3 separate regions of the Homo sapiens genome follow, and regions 1 and 2 are each linked to region 3. The links come from fine-mapping of genetic effects on gene expression. A gene starts in region 3. Each other region holds a variant in brackets. All regions are shown on one strand. Distances are between the middles of the regions.

Evidence for each region. PIP is the estimated chance that this variant, and not a neighbour inherited with it, causes the effect. A credible set is the group of variants that fine-mapping cannot tell apart.
Region 1: its variant is the best candidate, but not a certain one, in a credible set for the expression of BMP2 in whole blood (INTERVAL, PIP 0.70).
Region 2: its variant is the best candidate, but not a certain one, in a credible set for the expression of BMP2 in whole blood (INTERVAL, PIP 0.90).

Annotation. Positions count from the first base shown.
Region 1 is chr20:6,958,097-6,962,342 of GRCh38, forward strand. No RefSeq gene overlaps it. Among named protein-coding and RNA genes, the nearest start is that of BMP2, 190 kb to the left of the region's middle. The variant C/T (reference allele first, on the strand shown) is at 1,937.
Region 2 is chr20:7,749,286-7,753,531 of GRCh38, forward strand. No RefSeq gene overlaps it. Among named protein-coding and RNA genes, the nearest start is that of HAO1, 190 kb to the right of the region's middle. The variant C/T (reference allele first, on the strand shown) is at 1,900.
Region 3 is chr20:6,765,544-6,769,789 of GRCh38, forward strand. BMP2 (bone morphogenetic protein 2) reads left to right here and starts at 2,143. Exons shown (of 3, transcript NM_001200.4): 1 at 2,143-3,332. LOC105372517 (a long non-coding RNA gene) reads right to left here and starts at 1,941. Exons shown (of 4, transcript XR_937229.2): 1 at 1,778-1,941; 2 at 857-1,262; 3 at 309-465; 4 at 50-126. RefSeq lists promoters at 1-3,197, 2,007-2,648, 2,038-3,197, cis regulatory regions at 1,111-1,901, 1,908-2,007, 2,648-2,822 and silencers at 2,087-2,136, 2,227-2,276.

The DNA of each region.
Region 1 (4,246 bases), 190 kb after region 3:
CATTTTCCTTGGATAAATGTGTATTCATTTCTTTTGCCAATTTTTGAATTGGGCTTTGTTGTTGTTATTCAATTTTATGCGTTCTTTATAAAATATATTCTGACCTTTCTACTTCTTTTCAGTCAGATGTTTGCATGCTACATCAAAATGAATTCTCTTACATGAATTATTTTACTATATTATTATGTCATTTTATATATGTGTGTATGTATAAGAGTAGATAATTTCATGTATATAGTGTGTGTCTTATGTATATGCATGTGTGTGTTCATAAATTTTAGGAAATTAAGTTAAAATTTTTTTTGTTTTATTTAGCCATCCTCAATCAGAGACACTAAAATAATAGTATATAAACAACAAAAAGTAAGTAGTTCCTCTTGAGTTATTTAATTCTTGGTCATTTCTAATATGTTTCAAAGTGAAATAAGCAGTAATTTGTATTAACTTTAATGTAAATCTGACTTAATAGTTAAGATCTTGGTTTCTGGGGGTAGCCTGCCTGGGTTGGAATAACATTCTGTCACTTACTGTCTTGTTTAGTCTCTCTAAGCCTCACCTTCCTCATATGAAAGTTGAGATAATAGTAGTTACATAGGACTATTGTGGGAATTAAATGAAGAAACCTAGTGAAGTGATCTCTGCGGGTCTTACCTCAGAACCCACTTGGTGCTAGAGAATCCTTTAATAACAGAGGAAGTTCATAACCCCTAGAGATGCTTTCCTAGACCTGCAGGTAGAAGCCGTGGCATGGATTTTACCACTGTATTGCAGGGTAATCATCAGAATTCCTCCGAGGTAAAGAAATGAACAAGAAATTCTTATGGCTTGAGAGCCCAAGTACATTTTAAAATGAGGAAATGCCAACTCAGGGTTATTAAAATGTGGTATATTTTAAATGCCTGTGTCTAACAAATAAACAGTTAACGCACATATACATGGGTACACACAAACACATTGACTGTATATGACTTAACTTGGTGATAAGATCAAAAGTCTAAACTTTATGTTTTAATCAATGAGAGGCCTAGGCCAATCTCCTGCTGCCTACCACCACTATCCCATGATAACCGCTGGCAGTCCACAAAAATAAGACACCATGGCAGATTAGGGCTCAAATAAACATGTGTATCATTTACTCTAGTGGATTTCATATTCTGATGCCCAAATTTTAAAAACATATGAAAGTGGAGCTTCCATGGTTGAGGTAGGATGGGTTGTTGAGGCTGCCTGGCCCACCAACCTATTTCTATTAGAGACGTTGGGGACAAAAACATAACCCATGGCTTCATAAAACAAGTTTGGAAATGATTGCTTTAGTCTAATTTTATAGATGTCCTCCTGTATCCTATAATCTAAGGCATGAGTATTAGGGAGGAGTCGTGCACAAAGGTGAAAATTGCTAATTAGTGAAAATATACAACATGTGGCCCTGGAGAAATAAACTGATATTAGTATTTTAATTTTAAAGAAGTTGAAATTAACCCTGGGCACAGGGAGCTGTCAGTTCTACTACTTTATGTAAACCAATTGCCAAGCATGTCTAAAGTCAAACATGTCTAAAAGAATCAACTCATATACACACAAACATAAAAAGGTCTATATCACACAATTATTTTAAATAGCTGTAAGTGGTTTGCTCTTTTCCATTTTTTTCTCCTCCTTCTCCCCCTACCACCCCTATTTTTTGTCGTTTTCTCTTCCTTTTTTTAAAAATATAATTTTCTAAACCATACAGGTCAGGTCAGATTTTATTACCTCTAGCCAAAAGTGGTTTTAAGAATAAAGAGCAAAGAGCAAGTATCCTTATCTTTATGCTGTTTGACAGACTATGTAAATAAACAGCATGCCATAAGAAATTCTACAGATGGAGTTATCATAGCAGTGAAAAACTGCACAGATTATGCTCTCCTTATGGTATTTACTCATTTTTGTGTGA[C/T]GAATGTATGCAAGAAGTCATCATTAGAGAACATAATGGTCGCTGATGATGTATTTATGACATGGAAAGATGTCATGTGATGAAGTGTTTACAACCTATAATGAGGTTGTGTAACAATCTCTTTACAGCCCACAATTACATTGACTAATTCCTTATAAAAATACTCAACAGTATGCTCTCCATGTGCACGTGCTTGATATCACAGCACTTTAGTAACTGACACCTATAACTGCAAAATCAAGCAGCTTGGATGACTCAATAGTCTGTTTCCTATCCAAGGCACATAAAAGATCCTAGGTGTTTAGTTAGTATACTCCAATAAATTCCTCTTATTGGAGGTGACTCGAGTAAGTAACACTGGCATATGTGTCAATATCCTTAAGGGTTGGAGAATTTGAGAGGCAAATTTACCCCTGAAATAATCATTAGTGTAATTTCTTTTTGTTGTAATGATGGGAGAAGTATACATATCTGCACTCTGACATCCAGGAAAATATTTGTACCTGATCTTCCACATTGGTCCCTTATCTGGACCTTATCCCTTATTTCACTAATTAGTGAGCAATATGACTCAAATGAGGTCCCTAAATTTAAAAATGTAGGACAGAAATACCTTCCATATGAAGTTGTGAATAATCTGTATTGTATATAACTACAAAGATGAGTTAGACAGCTGGGGAGCTGGAGTTGTTAAGTGGCTAAAAGGTTGAGGTTCAGGACCTGAAATAGTCCCTGAACCTCTTACCAGGAAGTGAGCTTCAAGATGTAGGTGAGAAAATTCTGGAGCAATCCGGTAGATGTGTAAAAATTTGAAGGAAAATGAGAAAATAGGATGATGAGCAGACACAGAAAGAGGGGGTAGGATGTAGAAATACCATCTACTAAACTTTCATCAGAATATGAATAAGCAGTTGAAAGTGGTTCTAATCCAAGGGAAGTAAATGGGTTCTCAGACTAATAAAAATTAGTCCACATACTTTGAAGAGAAAGACAAAGTAGGGTTAAAATATTTAGTTTGGAAATATACAAAGAAGTGTAATGTAGGTAAACTGGTTTAAGAGTAGGTAAACTACACAAAACTAATTGAAATGTTATTATGTTGAAAGGGTTTAATTCTTTTCAACAGATGATGATAGACACCACAAGATTTTAATAACACACAGAATGTGGCTAATCCCATATAATAAGACTAAATAATATAACACTGACAGGAAGTGAATATGACCTGGTGATATGATTATGTCTTGCATTTACTTACATCTTTATGATTTCCAAAACACTTCTCATAACTTAATCAAACTTCAGAATAGTCCAGGACATGAGCTAGAAGAGACATGTTTGTTTGTTTATTTTATTTTTTAAAGGTAGAAAGTAAGAGCCTTAGAAGTAAAACAATCACTTTAAGGTCTTGGAAGGAATTAATGGGGGAGGTCATAGACTCTCTTTCCTCATCCAAAGAGGATGAAAAAAATAACCATTTCCTGAGGCATTGTGGAGGTACCGAGTGGCCCATGGCCAATCTAACATACCAACTGGAGACACTTAACTCAAAGCAGCTCCACACATGCAGAGAGGGCACCACAGGGAATGTGATGGTTTTTGTTTTTCTCGACTTGCTCCAAGACAAAAAACAGCTAATGTGGAAGCAAAACAATAGAGCTACAAAAGAAGACCCGCCATGAAAATGGTGTTAACCTGAGTTTCAATGTCTAGTAGAAAGGGCCAGCAGGGCATGTCCTTTATATGGCTCATGGGACAGAAACATCTCATTAACACCATCACATGGTATTTAGTCTTCACCACAAAATAATGTATTTCAACAATATCAGAAATGTCACTGGTTTTTTAGAGATTGATTATTCTACTCCTCCATGTCCCCCTGGTTTTTTCTGACCCCAGACCTCCAAGAAACTTTGAAAAGGACTCTGCATAAATAGGAGCAACTGGATTTGAACAGATAATTTGGATTTGAAGACTAACAGGGTTCTTGACAGTAATACATTAGGGCAATTTAGCTGAAACGCTCTGCTTATTATTTTGTCTGATTCTACCATGAAAGTTTTATAAAGTCATTTTACTTTGATTCATTCCAAGAAGTCCTAGGAATCCAACAGTATTCACAGAAAAGGAGACCAGTGGTGTCTTCACGGCTCAGTTGTTGTGATGCATTTTCGTCTGGACTTATGTGCTACTCATTTCTGAGTTACGCGTTTCATAATAAGCAAGTGGGCAAGTTTTAATGGCATCTTATGGTAAGGTGGAACAATGTCTTAGGTAGGGAAAAAAAGGGATGGTGCTGCTCCACATTTA
Region 2 (4,246 bases), 980 kb after region 3:
ACCTGTATACAATATGTCTTAATAAATAATGTTATTGGAAAGAAAATGTATTGGCTGTCCAGAGATGGGACTTTAAGCTCTTCTCTTCCATATCTTTGATCTTTGTCAAAGCAATTTACTTCCTTTTGATTCCATTTCTTTATCTCCAAAATTAGCAATGTCATATGGGAGACTGGGATGGGGATATTTTTAAGTATAATTTTTATATGCAGAAAAGATTATTCAGAGGCTCATTTTGCATTCAACCAAGTAATACTGAATTTACTAATACGAAAACTTCAAGAATCTAGTTTATAAGTTATTTTGTGTTTAGCTTGAAAATCCTATTCTCTAGCAGTGTTTAAAAGTGATTGCTTTTAAAGGACCTTTAAATAATAGTTTTTATAAATAAATGTATTAAAATATCTTAAGCATTTTAACTACATTTTAAATATTTAGTTATTTAATTTTTACATATTTCAGTTAACCTCTAATTTATATAAATTTTATAAATTAAATTAAAATTTTGGTGAAACATTGATACTCTTAAATATTCCAATTCTATAAACAAAAAATTTAAATGATTGTTCAATTATAAATTTTAAAACTGGACTTCTTCTGTGCTCTACTAGGTTAAATACTCTTAAATATTAGAAAATTATAAAATACTAACCTAACACAGATTTCTTAATGAGATAATATTAATATTATGGTTTTAAATTTCCTAAACACTTCCCTAATTTTCTAAATCTCATTGAGGTTAAAAGTTACCTACTAAATGAGGAAGAGTGTCCCCATCCCAGTTAAATGACACTGTTTCCCATCAAAGATTTAAACCAAGTATAGTATTTGGAATTACATAAACTATTATATTATGCCATATAATTTTGGTTGATGCCTCTCCAGTATTGTTTAGGGTAATAAGGACATGGAGTTTTTGTTCAACAAGTTGGCCGGATTCTTACTGTAGACATGAATGGATGCTCTAAACTCAGTCTATAGTTGCTATATAAATTAACCCACAATTACATGAAGGAGTGGCCACTAGTCCAATAAATTTCTGGATTCACAATATATAACAAAGTCTGCAACTTCAACATGAGGTGATCTCATTTAAATTTTGCCATTTCTTTGCCTCTTAAGGAGTATACATGTCTTCTCCCTGGGCATAAAGAGCTCTAAACATGGTGAAATCCAACAGTTCTATCACACCTTATTCTTGGGACTGCACAACCATTATAGATTTTAAGTTACATCTTATTAAACTCTAAATGTCTGTAAGGACTTTATTTGACAATTCAATGATAATTTACATGGTTATTCCACTAACAAGAGTATAGACTCATCACTAATCTGAAGTTAAATAAAGTTGTACTATATCTAGATCTTCTAGAATGAATATATTTCTGCTATGTGACCTTAACAGTGCTGCCCACTTGAATTTATTTGGGTGCAGATAGTCATTAGTATGATGACATCTATAGGTATTTCTCTAAGTAAGCTCTGAAATCCTCCCACTGAAATACCAATATGTCAGCCAAATTCTCAATCTGCCTGCCGCACTCAACAATTGTACCCTGGGCACAGACTTAAATATTGAGGAATCTAAATGCAATGATTATAATGACTCTTTTTAGTATCCTCTGTTTAGAGTTCACGTTTGGAAAATTAGGGTACCTTTAAGTATTCTGACAATGGTACATTATCTCCAGACCTTAGAGGGAGAGACATATCTTCGTTTTCTTGGTTATACAATAACATATTTTTAAAATAATTTTTAAAAGGAAATTAATGTAGCATATATGTTTATGCAAACAGCATTATTTTTAAATATGCTTATAAAAACATATGGAGATTTTTGAGAAGCAGGGGTCATCTGGTCCCACCTTCTCTTCTAAAACTGGGAAGGCATGTTGCCTC[C/T]CAAGCAAGCAGACTCTGAGCTTGACTTCAGTGTTTCTGTAGGAAGAAAATGTGGTTCATCTCTGTGGCTGTTTCTGAGAACGGAGGTGCTGAGTGTTTGAGGAGCTGAAAGAACAGGTCACGCTGGAACCAAACTAAATACAAACCTTAAAACAATGAGCCTCTGTCTGAATGCAGGTCTTCTGGCTCCCAGAGTGACACCTTAGCCAACCCATGTTCTGTGACTGTCCTGAGTTGCAGGGCTGAGGCAAGGAAATCATATCCACACTCACAGTTCTCTAGTTCATTCTCTCTCTCTCTCTCTGTCTCACCCTGTCTCTCTCTCTCTCTCTCTCTCTCTCTCTCTCTCTCTGTCTCCTTCTCTCTCTCTTCCCACTAGAATATACACAAGAAACCGATACTCTTAACACTGGATTATGACTGGGAGTCAAGACATGACCCCTGACCTTGCACACCAGGTAGCTTGAGCTTTGTTGTTTTTCATCCTTATACTAGAAGATTTCCCTTGTCAAGATTTCCATTTCTTTCCCTTGTCAAGATTTCCATTTCTTTCCCTTGTTGGGAGAAATTATCCACAATGTACGAGCAGGTAAATGGATTATTGCATGTTCATTGTTTACCAGCCCACCCAAGGATTATTTCATTCTCTAGGCCAGGAGTCAAGACACTTTTCCTGCAAAGGGTCATATGGTACACATTTTAGGCTCTGAGAACCATATATTCTGTCATGAGTATTCAGCTCTACCTTTGTAGCACAAAATCAGCCATAGGAAACAAACAAATGGGTGTAGCTTTGTCCCAAAGGAACTTTATTTAGAAAACCAAGTGGCCAGTGGATTTTGGTCTACTGTAATTTGTCAACATTTGCTCTCCTCTAGGAAAATAAACCTTACTTGATTTGCTATTTGTACTTGATCAGGGCCCAGCCTCTGTGAGTTTACCAGTTACCTTAATTAAAATATTGATCCTATAGAAGTGCAAATTACTTTTTTTCTGATTGAATTGACAGTCCCAAAGGTTATGATTTTATTGCCTAATAGCTCTTTAAACTGTTTTGTCTCTAACTTCAAAAGTAAAATTTTATTTTAATATGTCTTTCCTGATAGACTATATACACTCTTAATCCTCAAAGGCCCTTTGAACCAGGTATGTCATATTTCTGGATGAGTTATATAAGTGAACTATTGTTAATTTATACTAGTTCACTAGTATAAACTAGTGAACTAGTTAATAAGAACTGCACTATATCCTATATTTATATAAGAATCATAGTTTTATCTTTCTGACAACTAAATATTAACAATCTGGATTTGAGGCAAACACACCAGCATTCTATACATGATACCAAGAACAAATATCACAAGCACCTAGGAGGGAAAAAGGCAGGCATGTCGTGTGAAGCCCCTCCCTTCTCTTACCAGATAAGCTCATGAGTTTTCTATGAGATGACATTGGTCTTTTCTAGATTCCTGATGCCAACTCCTGGGAATTCCTATGTCTTTAGAAACAGTGGCTAGAAAAACACAGTTTCACAGAGGTAAAATGAGGCAATTCATCAATAAAAATGAGGTAATTCACTAATATAAAGCTCTGAGGTATTTATTTTTCAGCTCTGCTATTTTACAGTAACTACTGCTTGTAGCAAAGATAATTCCTCAAAATCCTTTCCTTTTATGCACTCCATTCACATATAGGAGAGTTCGTTGAAGTGAAGGAATGATGGGCTCAATTAAGAAAAGGGACATATGCCAGTCATCTGAAATCTTTCTAGTTTGAAACAGAAAATAACGTTATTTTGATGATTGCTTTAAAAATGAGAAGAAATTTAATATAAAAATTAACTCTGAATTAGCCCTGAGTTTTACACACCATCAAGGTCAGATTAATTTTAGGGAGCATTCCAAAGCTGCACTAGTACACTGCTATCCTTTCTCAAGTGTGTAACTTCAAAAGCTCACTTCTGGTTCATGCTATGTCTCAAGCATCATTTCTACAGAGATAACTTCCCAACTCTATTTCTAGGCTACATTATTCTTCCAGGCATCAGTCTTCCGTTTGCAGAAGACTGACCATCTCTCTTTTCCTCCAAGCTTATTCTTCTTCCTGTCTTGTCCATACTATGGTACTCCCATCAGATGGCCTTCTTTGCTCAAAACCTTTAAAACTTATTTGACATTTCCCTTCACCTTACCACCATCCCTAACATCCATTCAGCAGCTGGATCCCATCAGTGCTCCTCCACCCTCACCCACAGTTCACTAGCACAGGTTACCTTAGCTTCACTTTCTTTCAGCTGCTCAATGCCTGGTCGGCTCCTTTCTCAGAGCCCCACTCACTCCATTAATAG
Region 3 (4,246 bases):
TACAGTCATCCTGTACTTCGATCCCAAATCAGTCTCTGGAGACTACTTATTTATTTATTTATTTATTTATGGACTTCTTTCTTTCAAGCGTTCGAACTCATTTCCACCACAAGAGGGCAGCCATCTCTAAAAAAAAAAAAATAGGGCCAAAATTTATGTAAGTTGTGCTTGGAACAAGCATTCAGTAGTTCCTCAGAAATCATACACCCTACATAAAAGAGATTCTGCAATGGGCAGCACTAACATGAAACAGTGTTCAGAAGTACCCATTTTCCCTCAGATTCTAAACTGACAAGGTTTCCACTTACCAGGTTATGAAGTTCTAAAGCTGCAAGACATCCTTGAGGTCATCACAGGATATTTATTTATTTTTTCTTCGGGTGCATCCAATAGTTATCAACTTTTCCTCCTCTTTAAAAGCTACTTAAATCTCATTGAAGTTTTGTTTTGTTTTGTTTTTGAAATCTAAGTAATGAGAGAAACAATTGTTAACTTCTCAATTAAACTTGATAGGAAAGGAAATAATTTCAGAAGCCCTGTGTCCATGAGTAGGATATGTTTTATTGCCTCCTTGTTTGCGGTGCAATGACTCTGAGTGACAATCAACTTCTATAGCACCTTTTTTTTTTTTTTCAGGAAATAAAGTAGCATGTTCCTGAATAATTCCCCCACCCCCTTTTATTTTCCTGGTAGTCAGGCTTCCTCCAAAATACCTTATTTGACCTTTATACCTTTAGAAACAGCAAGTGCCTAATTCGCCTCTGTGGGTTGCTAATCCGATTTACGTGAGCGGAACCTAGTATTATTTTAGCTCCCCTACCGAAAAAATAATACACATGGATAATAGTTCTATTACCAGCTCCTGCTTCTGACTTTTTTCTCTCTGTTTCGCAGGCCCGATAGCTCTGGGAAAGCAGAACTTGGCCTTTTCCAAAAATTTTCTGCCCTTGGTTTTGGGGATCATTTGGGCAAGCCCGAGGTGCTGTGCATGGGGGCTCCTGGAATCCTGGGAAGGGCAGAAAGCCTTGGCCCCAGACTCATCGTGCAGCAGCTCTGAGCAGTATTTCGGCTGAGGAGTGACTTCAGTGAATATTCAGCTGAGGAGTGACTTGGCCACGTGTCACAGCCCTACTTCTTGGGGGCCTGGTGGAAGAGGGTGGCGTAGAAGGTTCCAAGGTCCCAAACTGGAATTGTCCTGTATGCTTGGTTCACACAGTGCGTTATTTTACCTTCCTCTGAGCTGCTAATCGCCTGCCTCTGAGCTGGGTGAGATAAATATCACAAGGCACAAAGTGATTGTACAATAAAAAAATCAAATCCCTCCCATCCATCCTTCAGTCTGCCACACACGCAGTCTACGTTACACACATGTCACGTAAAGCAGGATGACATCCATGTCACATACATAGACATATTAACCGAAATGTGGCCCTTCGGTTGCATATATTCTCATACATGAATATATTTATAGAAATATATGCACATATTTTTGTATATTGGATATATTTATGTAACTATAAATTTACATGCGTATGGATATGAAAATAAATGCATACACATTTATGTAAAAAAATTTGTACACATGCATTTACATATGTAAATACATACATCTCTATGTATTAATGTTTAAAAACACTCAATTTCCAGCCTGCTGTTTTCTTTTAATTTTCCTCCTATTCCGGGGAAACAGAAGCGTGGATCCCACGTCTATGCTATGCCAAAATACGCTGTAATTGAGGTGTTTTGTTTTGTTTTGTTTTTTGAAATCGTATATTACCGAAAAACTTCAAACTGAAAGTTGAATAACGGGCCCAGCGGGGAAATAAGAGGCCAGACCCTGACCCTGCATTTGTCCTGGATTTCGCCTCCAGAGTCCCCGCGAGGGTCCGGCGCGCCAGCTGATCTCTCCTTTGAGAGCAGGGAGTGGAGGCGCGAGCGCCCCCCTTGGCGGCCGCGCGCCCCCGCCCTCCGCCCCACCCCGCCGCGGCTGCCCGGGCGCGCCGTCCACACCCCTGCGCGCAGCTCCCGCCCGCTCGGGGATCCCCGGCGAGCCGCGCCGCGAAGGGGGAGGTGTTCGGCCGCGGCCGGGAGGGAGCCGGCAGGCGGCGTCCCCTTTAAAAGCCGCGAGCGCCGCGCCACGGCGCCGCCGCCGCCGTCGCCGCCGCCGGAGTCCTCGCCCCGCCGCGCTGCGCCCGGCTCGCGCTGCGCTAGTCGCTCCGCTTCCCACACCCCGCCGGGGACTGGCAGCCGCCGCCGCACATCTGCCGCCACAGCCTCCGCCGGCTACCCGAACGTTCTCGGGGCCAGCGCCGAGTGGATCACCGGGGACCGCGAGGCACCCGCGCGCCGCAGACCCCGCGCGGGCTGGAGCACCCGGCAGAGCGCGCCACAGCGCCGTGGCCTCTGCTGCCCGGGCTGCGCCAGAGCCGCGGACGGGCGCGCAGAGCGCCGGGGACTCCGGAGCCGATCCCTAGCGCCGCGATGCGGAGCACCTACTGCAGGAGATCGGGGGCCTGGGACGCGCTGGCCGAGGTGTGATCGGACCCCAGGCTAGCCACAAAGGGCACTTGGCCCCAGGGCTAGGAGAGCGAGGGGAGAGCACAGCCACCCGCCTCGGCGGCCCGGGACTCGGCTCGACTCGCCGGAGAATGCGCCCGAGGACGACGGGGCGCCAGAGCCGCGGTGCTTTCAACTGGCGAGCGCGAATGGGGGTGCACTGGAGTAAGGCAGAGTGATGCGGGGGGGCAACTCGCCTGGCACCGAGATCGCCGCCGTGCCCTTCCCTGGACCCGGCGTCGCCCAGGATGGCTGCCCCGAGCCATGGGCCGCGGCGGAGCTAGCGCGGAGCGCCCGACCCTCGACCCCCGAGTCCCGGAGCCGGCCCCGCGCGGGGCCACGCGTCCCTCGGGCGCTGGTTCCTAAGGAGGACGACAGCACCAGCTTCTCCTTTCTCCCTTCCCTTCCCTGCCCCGCACTCCTCCCCCTGCTCGCTGTTGTTGTGTGTCAGCACTTGGCTGGGGACTTCTTGAACTTGCAGGGAGAATAACTTGCGCACCCCACTTTGCGCCGGTGCCTTTGCCCCAGCGGAGCCTGCTTCGCCATCTCCGAGCCCCACCGCCCCTCCACTCCTCGGCCTTGCCCGACACTGAGACGCTGTTCCCAGCGTGAAAAGAGAGACTGCGCGGCCGGCACCCGGGAGAAGGAGGAGGCAAAGAAAAGGAACGGACATTCGGTCCTTGCGCCAGGTCCTTTGACCAGAGTTTTTCCATGTGGACGCTCTTTCAATGGACGTGTCCCCGCGTGCTTCTTAGACGGACTGCGGTCTCCTAAAGGTAGAGGACGCGGGCCAGGGCCCGGGGTGGGTGGTGGGTGGGAGGGGGATTTGGGCAGCCACTGCGGTAGAGCCCTTCCTTACGTCCAGGCCAGAAGTAAACAGACCCCTCTCCAGTCCACGTGCAACGGAGCCCTGCAGGGGCTCCCACTTCCAGCTGCCCCGGGCGACCGTAAGCCTCACCCTCCCGGCCCGCACTCTTCCACCCCTCTTTCTTCCCCTCTCCCTGGAATACTTTTGGAGCTGTTAACACTTAGATGAGGTGTTTTATTTATTTATTTATTTATTTTTAATTTTTTTAAAAACTTTTTTGGGTCAAAGAAATCCCTTTGAGAGGGTAGCCCCTGGGTTTCACCCGTTAGCTGAGAACCTGTCCGCTCTGCCATGGTGATCTCCATTCTTCAAGTGTTTCCGGGAGACTTGGTTTCTTTGCTCAGAGCCGTGTCCCATTTAGGAAAGTACTAGGAGTTTGGGGTTCTCCCTACTTGTTTCCAGAAATGCGAGGGGTCAGTACTGAAGGATCACTTGGTACTGTGTTTTTAACAGCTGACACGTGCATTAATAGATATTCACCATTTACGTAATCCCGGGAAGATACATGTGTATCTTGACTGCACTGTGGGGATGCGGGATGGAGCTGCCTTTCGAGACACCCCTGAGGGTAGGGGCCTGGGACACAAGTCATAAGTGGCTTCAGAAGTTGTGGCCTTGAGCTTACAGGGTCTGGAAGCTATAAGGGTGTGTGTGTGTGTGTGTGTGTGTGTGTGTGTGTGTCAGGAAGTTCTATACAGTGCCTCTAAGGAAGTCACATGCACCATTTATGTGTGTTTATATGCCAGACAGCGCTCAGCACTCCGCATTTGGGTTTGTATAGGGGACGCAGGGTGTCAGATCAAGCGGTGGTTTTCCCAGGTT